Regions from separate parts of the Homo sapiens genome. Here region 1 is linked to region 2. Evidence: fine-mapped expression QTL. A gene starts in region 2. The other region holds a variant in brackets. All regions are shown on one strand. Distances are from middle to middle.

Evidence for each region. PIP is the estimated chance that this variant, and not a neighbour inherited with it, causes the effect.
Region 1: its variant is fine-mapped to the expression of TEX264 in whole blood (TOPMed, PIP 0.99).

Annotation. Positions count from the first base shown.
Region 1 is chr3:51,701,819-51,707,178 of GRCh38, reverse strand. TEX264 (testis expressed 264, ER-phagy receptor) reads right to left here. Exons shown (of 5, transcript NM_015926.6): 5 at 2,856-3,455. The coding sequence ends at 3,163. GRM2 (glutamate metabotropic receptor 2) reads right to left here and starts at 111. Exons shown (of 6, transcript NM_000839.5): 1 at 12-111. RefSeq lists an enhancer at 2,371-3,239. The variant T/C (reference allele first, on the strand shown) is at 2,939.
Region 2 is chr3:51,668,493-51,673,852 of GRCh38, reverse strand. It overlaps TEX264 (testis expressed 264, ER-phagy receptor), which reads right to left and starts at 2,601. Exons shown (of 5, transcript NM_015926.6): 1 at 2,565-2,601. RAD54L2 (RAD54 like 2) reads right to left here. Exons shown (of 23, transcript NM_015106.4): 23 at 5,193-5,360. LOC124906237 (a long non-coding RNA gene) reads left to right here and starts at 2,748. Exons shown (of 2, transcript XR_007095907.1): 1 at 2,748-3,204; 2 at 4,197-5,236. RefSeq lists a silencer at 2,436-2,865.

The DNA of each region.
Region 1 (5,360 bases), 33 kb before region 2:
GCTCACCCTACCTGGCGCGCTGGCTCTGGCGCGGAGAGAATCGGAGTGGAGCGGGGGGCGCGAGGCTCCGGCTCCCGCTCGCTCGCTCGCTGGCTCGCTGGCTCTGCGCTCTCCGCCCGCCCGCTCGCCCCGCCGCTTTCAATCGCGGCCCGCCCCGCCCCGCCCCCGGCCCCGGCCCGCCCCCAGCCCCTCCTCCGTTCCTCCAGACGCCAGGTCTCCTGCTCCCAACCCAGCCTCCGCCTCCTCTGGACACTCCGCGCTCCAGCTTTTCTGGGGACCTCAGGGCCTGGAGCTGTCCGCCTCGTGGTGCTGAATCCCCGAGCGCTCTCGCTCTGCGCTGGAGCGGGTGCTTCGTGGCCCACTCCGCCCCATAGTCAGACTACCACCTAGAGAGCATAGGTGGGGGGCGGGGGGATGCCACGGGGCACGGGGTGGGGAAGGTCACTGCGCCCCGACAGGTGCCCATAGTGCTACTGCAGAGTGGAGGAGCTGGCCTTAGTGCAAGGGGTGCCTCTGGGGGATAGGTAAAGGGGCGCGTGGGAGACGGGTGGAGTCTATTCTCCCCACTCAGCGATTTCAGCTGGGTCCACATCCCAGGCCTGAGTTGGAGGCATGTGTCCTCTGCCACTTTTGAGACCTGGAGCCAGAGTCACTATGAGGAAAAGATTGGGGGAAGGGAGAGGTCAGAGGAGAATGGGGCCTCCCCTTCCTTCCTGCAGATGCCCTTTAAACCTGCCACCCACTCCCATGTAAAAAGGGTATTTAAGCAAGGAGAGAGCAACCTGCAGGAAGGGCTGCAGAACCAAGTACTAGGGTCAACCCTGAGGGAGTGTTAGGGATGGCAGGGGCATCTGGGAGGGGAGGGGCCTAGGGAAAGGCTTCTGGAACTGGCTGCTGCGTAGGAGGGAGTGAGAGCTGGAGCCCAAGCAGAGGGAGGACAGCTCTGAGAAGATTCTCTTGACTCTTCCCTCCCACAGCAGGATGGGGAAGGACGCCCCTGGGTAGAGGGTAGTGGATAAGCTGTAGTGCCAGACTGTGCTGAAGGAATGGGGATTAGAGAGCCTGTGCTATCTGCCCCTAACATGTGCACACACTAACAAGTGCCAAGGGGCATGGCATCCCTACACACATTCCCGACACTGCCCTTTCTTCCACAGGTGTCAGTGGAAGCAAGGCCAGCTCAGATACATGCTAATGAACATGCCAAGCCCAGACCCCTCAGGCACACACACCCACATGTGCGTGTGGCAGTCCGTAGGGGTGCGGGGGTGATCACCAAGGACGAGCTTTTTCCCTGGACACAGAAACCTGATGTCCTGCTGCTGTGGAAAGAATACAGCTTTGAAACGAAACAGACACATAAAACCCAAACAAACACAAGCCCCATCACTAACAGGAGACAAGGTGGCAGTGGGAGACAGACATGCTGTCTTCCACCTCCAACTCTGCCACCGGCTGCTCTCACCCTCTCTGGCTGCCTCAGAGCAACAGCTCCCTGGGGTAGGTGAGCAATGGGCCAGGCCTCTGGAGCAGAGGGGTTGACAGCAGGAGGGTGCTGAGGTGAGGAGTCACACACTCCTTCTAGCCACACTCCCAACCTGCTCAACAAGTCAGCCTCACAAAAGGCACAGGGCTGTAAACACAGATATGGCTGTGTACAGCATCAGCCAGAAAAGCCCATGATGTGGCCTGCAGCAAACAAGCTGCACAGTCGCAGCACATGGACACACAGTTACACACAGCTAGGCAGCCACCACTCCCAGCTGTGTGCACACGGATGAGGACATACACTTAGCCTTACACAGTTGTAAATGTGGACATGGCCACATGCATAGTACACATAAACATGCAACCACACACAGCTATACTTGTAGACAGCCATAATACACATGGGCACACCCCTGCCCCTAAGAACATGTGACCATGTCTACACACGGCTGCACATGTGGACACAGCCACATATATACAGCTGCTCACACAAGGACATGCCACAAATAGCTGTCCACCAAGACATGTCCACACATACATGGCCATAATTATGGATATACGGCTGCAGGACACATAGCAAATGTGTGTTTTTATATGTGGACACATAGCAAAACACATAGCTTTATACATGAACGTCATGAACATCACCATACACACAGTTGTACAGACACAGCCACACACAGTTGTACATGAACAAAGCCCCCATAGAGATGCTGTTAGCCAGCCTCACATGCTCCTATAATACAACCATACACAGACACAAAGCACAGCAATACACACACACACACACACACACACACACACTCACACAGGCACACAGCCATCCACACAGACTCAGCCATGCTCAGGTACAATCATACCCTGATGCTCACCTGGGCACAGCTTTACCCAAGCAGCCCCATCCATCCGTGGTTACACAGAGCCAAATGCATGAGCGTGGGTGCACATGCACACACACAGGTACACAGCCACTGGCAGGCACAGTGGGGGAGCCTCGCCTACTGGGGAAGTACCAGCGTGCAGGCACACTAGTCACAGACACAAAGGCATCCCTTGGAGGCAGATGAAGACAGGCTGTGAGCTCCCCATTCCTGAGCCCTGAAGGGCACCCCATACTCAGCTCTCACCCAAGCCAGGCTCTGCTTGCTCTCTGGCAGCTGCAATGGAGGGGCAGCTGGCCACTGGGGTCACAGAGCAGGACGTGGAGGATCTCTAACTCCCCTCCTCCCCCAACCCCAGGGTACCTGCCATGTTCCTTCCATTCTTTGTCCTGGGGAGGGGAGGCTCCTTCCCACTCCCAGCCTATCTGTACAGCCATCCCCCCACCGCCCCCAACCAAGGCAGAACAAACAAATACACAACCCAAATCCAGGTGAAACAAGTAAATCATTGGCTTTATTCTGGGTCCTGGAAGCTCCACTGTGAGTCTGAAAAAAAGACACAACAGGGG[T/C]GGCAGCCCTGGGGGCTGGTGCAGAAAATAGTCCCTGGCTCCTCTGGCCCTGGGAGCCTAAAGGGCAGTGAGGAGAAGGCTTAGCAAGAGGCCTGGAGCAGGGGAAGTCAGGTCCCTCAGGAACCCCTCCTCCCCCAGAGGAAGGAGGAAGAGGGCTGGAGAGTCTGCTGGAGAGTCTGCTCAGTTCCTCAGCAACTGCACTGCAGGAGGGTGCAGGCCATGGGTTACTCCTTGCCCTTCTCAGGGGCAGTGGGCTCCCAGAGCCACTTGGTAGTCCCCAGGGGCTCAGTCCCAGGGTCCAGCCGTGACTCCCCTAAGGGCCCCTCGCCCTCCAAGTCCAGCTCCTCAAAAGAGGAGCCGCTGGCACCTGACTCGCTGTAGCTGTGCTCGCTGCGGGTGTCACCGTCATCCCAGCCACGGCTGCTCGCCCCAGGTGACAGTGTGGCAGCTGAAGTCTCCCGGCTGCCAGGGCTCACTTCCAAGCTTACAGAACTCGTGTCACTCATTGTGTCAGCTCCTATGACCAGGAAAAGGGAGCACAGGTTAGCTAGGACCACCCCACCCCCTCCTCCAGGGAGAGGCAACTCAGCACGCAGTGCACTCATGAATAATGCAGCCTCCCGGGCTCAGGGGGCTTGCTCCAGCTGCCCTCTGCCCTCTACCCTGACTGGGGCTGCACAGACAGGGCAGAGGGAAAGAGCTGGGAGGAAGGGAGGGAGGGAAGGAGGGAGGGAGGGAGAGAGGGTGGGAGGAGGCAGCTGTGCACTCTTCTCCCCACTCTAAATTAGCCTCAGCTCCCTGCACTTCCACAAAGCCTGCTGCCCTCCCCCCACATTTATTAAGGGCCACTCAGCCCTGAGGTGAGGAGCTGAGGTAGAACAAAGAGACACAAGTAGTGTCCTCTCCACCTTCCCCCACCCCCACTTCAAGCTTGGAAAGAGATGTGTCCAGGGCCAGCTACAGAACATCACCCACAGGGCACGAGGACTGCAGAATGCAGCAGGAGGCCCCTCTGCAGCCCTCCCCCGTGCAGGGCTCCCAGGAGCAGCATCCAGGGAGTCAGCAGGCCCCTGCCTCTGGTACACACCAAGTCCCAGTTGAGGAGGGAGCTGAAGTACGAGGAGGATGGAGAAGGCCTGAGAAATACTCAACCAGCTGCAAGGAGGAGGGTGCTGGGATGAAACATGTTAAGGGTTTTCTCTCCCTATGCCTGGGTCGACCCTGAGAAACCCTTACCCACCCCACCCCCAATGACTGGTGCTTCCTGAGCCACAAGATAGCAAAAGGGGATGATGAGAGCACTCTGCTGGTGGTTGGGGTGCCCCAAACCAGTGCTGAGCCAGGTTGATGGCCCAAACTCCTTCTAACCTGCTCCTTCCACCCCCAATACATCCTCCAAGCAAGCAGCCCCTTCATCTGCCCTGTCCAGGAGCAACCCCTGGGTTCATCTCCCTGGATCAGAGGCACTGAATGCAGGCTGGGGTGGCAAGGAGGAACACATGGCTCAGGCTCGCTGTGTGCAGGAATCCAGACTGGGAGAAAGTGGATCTGCTACCCTTCCTGTATGATGGGGAGAGGGTCAGCTGTCAAACATCACAGAAGGTGAGGGGTTAGCCAGCTTCCCCAGCCACTGTCTCCATGGTGTTGGAGCCAAGCCAGGTGCAGCTGGGGTCTGCTTGGCGCCTGGACTCAGCCTGGGGCTTTCCTTGAGCCTCAAATGGGGCCTAGGTTGGGGGTGGGAGAATTAGGAGAGGGGGGAATTTGGGGTCTCTCCCTACCCCCACCACCCACTCAGCCCCCAGAATATGCCCTCTGGGCGCTACTGGCAGAGGTGAGGTGAGCCCTAGAAGCCCAGGCTGCTGGCCCAGGGCCCTCCTCTTGCTGAGGCCCCAGGTGTGGCTCCCAGGACAGAAGCCTGTGAATGAGGTGGTCAGGGAGCTGGGGGAGCTTTAAGTTTTGGGTAGTTTCTTCTGACCAGGGGACAGGATGCCAGGCCCTCACTGCTCCTTAAATAATGATCAGTGCCCCAGGGACCGCAGGCCTGAAAAGAGCAAAGGAGGGAGACAGTTTCTCCCTGGCCCTATTAAACTGTATGTTCTGTCTGCCCACCCACCCAATGGCTCTCTTGGGACCCCAGGTATAGGAATGTGCCTGCTTCCCAGCATGCTACCTCCTACCACCCAGCTCCTAGGCTAGGAATGTTCAGAGGAAGGAGCCTAGGGGTGCCTCCTTCAGGCCAGGACAGCCTGCTGAAATGAAGACAGCCCCTGGAGACATATATACACTTCAAGCAAAGGAATTCAGCTGGAGGCCAGGCACGGTGGCTCACGCCTGTAATCCCAGCACTTTGGGAAGCTGAGGCAGGTGGATCACATGAGGTCAGGAGTTCCAGACCAGCCTGGCCAACATGGCAAAACCCCAT
Region 2 (5,360 bases):
AGCCCAGCCTCCCCAAGCCTCAGGGACGACTGCCAGAGGGAGGACTGGCAAATGCTAGGGTCCAAACACTTACTAACGACAGGGAAACCATAAGGAACAAAAACTTGTGAGGAAAAATGTGCCTCAGGAAGAGAATTTCATAAGAAACTCTCCTTTTCTAAGTACATCTGGCCTGCAGGGACCTTGCTATCCAGCAAGCTTACCCATCCAGAACCAGAGGAAAGACCAGAGCAAAGCGGCCTGAGCAGGCAGAACAAAGTCCAACACTAAGCTTCCCAGACTTGAACCACCAATGTTAACAAGCTTCATCCCAATTTTCCAGCCCACAGAAGAAACAGTGAGTAGTAAGAGGAAAAGGCTGCTAAAAGGGGAGTCGCACAGCAGGAGGAAGTAACAATTATCCCTAAGAGGAAAAGAAGCTGTTCAAGAGCAGTCCCAGGAACATAACACAGAGGCCAGTCTGTGAGCTATTCAAGGCAGGCTGCCTAGTTCTCCAGGCAGCTTGGGGCCAGAGGCCTAACCCTCTTACACAGAGGGCTTGACCTGAGTTGCCTGGCGGGGGGGAAAAATCACAGCCCAGAGAAGACTGTTTAAAGAGGAAGGGAGCCATGTGACCCACTGGGGGGACATTCCCACCCCAATTATTTAAAAGTAATATTTAACATTTAAAAGGTTTTGAAGCTAAAAAGGCCACGCTGCAACTTTGTGGAATACTTAGCTCTGTGGAATTATTTCTTCCCTGTGGGTGCTGGGTGTTGATTTTACGCTAAAAAAAAATTGTCTTTGGAGTCAATGAGCACACAGTATTTGCTCACAAAGAGGCAAAGTAAATTTCTAAACTTTCGGTGTCAAGAAATTGAGGTGTTGCCCACTAGTCTCACCCATCTGTGCTTCTACCCATCAGTATCTCTCTCTTTTCTGCCTGTCCTACTCATCTTGTCTCCAGTAACTTTCATTCCAATTTTCTTTGATAATGATGAGAAATCTTCCACTGAATGCTTACTATACGCCAGGCACTGTCTAAATGTTGAAACACAGCTACTTCATTCACCCTCAAAGCAATCCAAAGAGGTAGGTAAGGCTAAAGGTTCAAGTAGTTAGAGGTTAAGAGACTTGCCCAAGGTAACACAGGTATTAAACAGAGCCACGTGGACCAAAATGCAGGCAACACAAGCCCAGACAGTCTGATTCCAGCCCCTCATTTCCACTTTCTCTCTCCTCTCTGGTGACTGGCTTCCAAAACGCCTGAAGCATTAAATCCTTGTTGGACATCTCTGAGCCCAAAGCTGGAAAACTCTCAGCATCTAGGCCCCCACTTGCCTTGGGAATGACAAGCCCTCACCCTGATCTGCCATCTCAGCTGAACACTTCCTGTCTCCTCAAGGAAACTTAGTATCTACCTTTCTCTTCCTCTCACTTCCCAAACTGCTCAGAAAACGGCGGGGGGGAAGAAAACCCACCTGGGGGTCTCAGAGCCTTGGTCGGCACGTGGAGAGGTAACGTGAATTTCCCCTATATTCAAGAGAAAAGGAAGAAGGTCTGGGAGCTCACCTGAAATGCCAGGCTCACTTTTAGTAACTGCTGGCATCCAGTGCGGCAGGGGCCGAGCGCTCCAGTGCTGGGAGCTGAAAGAACAGTCACCCCTGCCCAGGAAATAACCACTGAGCCAACCATCATGCCCTGATTACCGTCCTCAGGGAAAGCCTACCGGTCCCTCTAAAGCACCCTCGTCCCATTCTCAAACCCCCTGTGGAAATCAGAAGCCAAACCTAGCTTTACAATGTCAGGTCTCTTCGCTAGAGCTCTGGTCACGCCCCTCTTCCTGGAGTACTCCAATCACACTTGGCGCCCAGAAACTGCCGCTGCCGCTGACCTTGGGCAGACTGCGCCCTCCCTCTAGCCTCGGCTCCCCCTCCGCTCAGAGGCCCGGGATGGACGCGTGCGGCCGGTGCCAGCGAGCCTCAGGGAAGGCTGCGCCCAGCCAGCTTCCTGGTGCCGCTCACGTGCGCGGCGGCGGAGGGCCGGGCCCTTAAACGGCCCCCGTCCTGGGCTAAACTTCGGTGCTAGCAGAGGGCGGAAGGACTATGGAGGGTGGGGGGCCGCCGCCTCCCACTTTCGGATTCCAGCCCCTGCTCACCCCGGGCCTTGCCTATTTACTCAGAGCCTTTCTCTTCGCCCACCTCCTCACGGAGCCCCACGCACGTCTGTAACTTAAAGGACGCTAAAGTTTGCAGCCCAGGCTGCGAGGCGCGGCCTTGGGGGACGGGGGCGGAGTTAAAACGCGACTCGCGCCTCTTTCCCTCACCTCCACGGCCCCGGGGCATGCCCTGCACCGGTGGCCGCGGAAGTGGGCTGCCCGGAAGAGTAGGGGCTGCCCCAAGGTCGCATCCAGGCCCTCGGACCTGGCCGAGGCCAGCTGTGGGCAAGACAAGATGCAAAGAGCGGCCCGGGCCGCGGGGGTCACGGAGGGGACACGGAGAGTCCTGAGGTCGCGCCAGGGCGGACAGGGGGAGTCCCAGACCTACGCCCCAGTGGGTATGCCTCTCCTCTGGCCCGGCCCTCACCTCAGCAGCCGCCCGCTGCGGACGCCGATCCGCGCAGGCGGCTCAGGGTTCGGTTACGGAGCCTGCGCGCGCCCGCCGCGCACGCTCGCTCCGCCCCCTCTCGCGGCGGGACATGGCCGTGGCCGTGGGCGCGTGCGCGCGGGACCCGGAGGGCGGAGGCCTGCCCCGCCCCGTCTCCATGGCAACGGGCGTGTGCCTAGCCCCAGCGCTGGCTGCGGCGGAACCCACGGCGTACCTTCCCGCCTCCAACAAACTATCCGGTTGCTGAGGTTGATTTAGCAACACCCCAGGGCATCTGGGTTGGCAGGAGCACCACAGTGACAGCCTGGCCCAGGCTCGGGTACGGGAGGCAGCCCAGTGGCCCGCAGTAGAGGGCCAGGCTGGGGACCAGGGAGCTGGGGCTGAGGAGAATTTGTACAGCCTAGGGAGGCGCAGCACAGCAGTATCAGCCTCTGGCATTTGTACCACCTTTAGTCCTGCCACTTTCTCTCACTGTGGCTTCGCAACAGACTTGGGAACCAAGAAAGGCATAGGTGAGGAAGCTGAAGCCCAGTCTGGGCTCGCGGAAGAAACTGGTGGATCCAACTTCTGCATAGCGCAAATATCTGCTTCCTGCCTCCACCCACCCATTCCCACTTCCGTGAGTATATTCATCCATCCAACACTTATTATTACTCCTTGCCAGGACAGTTCTAGGGGCTGGGGATAGAGTGAACAAAACCAAGGTTCTGCCCTCCTGGAGTTCACGTTCCATGGGAATGCCCTTCTTCCAGGCTCCTCCCTCAGTGCCCAGGTTGTGGCTGTGGGAGGCTGGTCTACCTTTGTGGTTTAGCGGTAACTTACGTGATTCCCACGTCAAGTGTAAGCTCCTTGATGATTGGTTCAATCTTCACCTCAAATTTCTGAGGACCTACAAACTACAAAGCACTCTTCTAGGGGCCCAAAGATAAAACGCTCCCCTCGTGAAAATCCCGGACTTTTGGTGGGAGGTGGGGAAGGTGACAACTATGCTCATAAGCTTGGCTACAAGACCGGCGAGGCCAAGAGCTACTTTGGTATCCTGACAAGGACTGATGTTTGGGAGGGGGATCCAGCAGATGGGAACACCACGAAGGTGGTGGTGGGAAAAGTCAGCAGTCACAGGGTGGTTCACCTTGTGGATCCCACTACTGCACCAGCAAAGAGCAGGCTGGGCACACAGAGACAGTCAAAATCCCAGCTTCCTTTCCCTCTGCTTCACATTCTTCCTTCCGCAGGCAGGGGAGTTTGAACCTTATCCACAGGGCCAAGCCTGTCCCAGCCCTCTAGGCAAACTGGCAGAACAGGCAGCTGGCCCCTCACAGGCACTCCGGGCTGGGCCAGTGCAGGTCGCAGCAGTTGTTTTACCTATGAACATCAAGCACATGGTCAAACCCTCAGCTTAGGTGCCCCAGGCAGGCGGGCTACACACTTGGTAGCATTTCCTTTGACACAAGGAGCAGCCATGGCCCGGGCTCAGAGACTGACAGCCTCTGCCTGCAGGGTCTGCGTGGTCATTTCTCCTGCTTCTCAGAAGGTGGTGAGCTTTTCCCAGGAAACCATTATAAGGAAGTGCCCATTCTTTATCTTGTTCTCTCTGCTCACTTCCCTTAGCCTGATTGGGGAACTCTAGAGCCCCACATCAGAGTTCAACATGTGCCTCAGGAGCTTCAGCACCTCTTTTGTGGGAGGAGAGTCCGCTGGTGACTGGGGCTGCAGGCCATGACATCAGCCTGCCCAGCTTCACCTCAGGCTGCTTCCAACAGTGCCAAGTGAGGTCCCTTGGCAGGATCCCTGCAAGGCAGCGGCTGGCCACCAGGAGGCAGCAGCCTACTCTACAAGGCACTTTCTTCATTCCAACCCCTTGTAACAGGTCTGAGGAAACCTGTTCGCCCAGCCATGTGCTGCAACCATCCTCCACTCCCAATCTTATCTCCCAATAGCACAGATTCCCCTATCATGAGTCCAGACTTGGCCTTCATCTCCTCTTGCCTTCCTCTGTCCAAGGAATCACTACAGAGATTCTTTCTCTATCCTTCTTTGTAAATTTCCAGAAAATTGTTTCCCCAGGGCCCCTCCCCTTGAAGAAATTAAACAGGAAGCTGGAGTAGACTGTCCCTTCTTTCCCCCACCTCTCACACTCCAAAGCTCTGTTTAACTCTGTGGGCCAGTGGCTAGATTCCCCAACATGGATGACAGAGAATACACATGCAATAAGAATGTTTTCGCTGCCACCAGCCACTCACAGACACACTGTCTCCCACCCTCTGAAGGCATTGTGCCCAATCCCCAGCCACTCACTGTCTAGTCAGGGCTGCCCCTGCAGGACTTGCCTTGGCTGAGGACCAGCTAGCTTCAAGCCACTCTGAAGTCAGCTTGCTGTTTCCCCTGGAGCCTGGTAATACATCCTTCTTCAGGTGAACAAAAGCAGAAAAAGCCCAGTGAACCCCACTGCAACAAAGAGCCTGCCATCAGTCTTCCTTCTGTTCCTGCCTATCTCATCACCCAAGGGCTATCCCAGAGCCCACTATGTTCTAAGATCTATTCCTTTCACCACCACCCAGCCAAACAACTATCCAGACAATTCCTTGATCAAACAACACTGCCTTCTTGAGTTTAAATTTTATTTTACAAAAAGAGAAATAAAGAAAACTGATAGGCAGTTATACTGACTTACAATTGTTCTGTTTGCTTTTTTTTAAAAAAGTGACATGAAACACAAGTAAAAATAAATACGTCATAGAAACAGCCAGTTGCCCAGTCTCTGGGGCAGGAGCG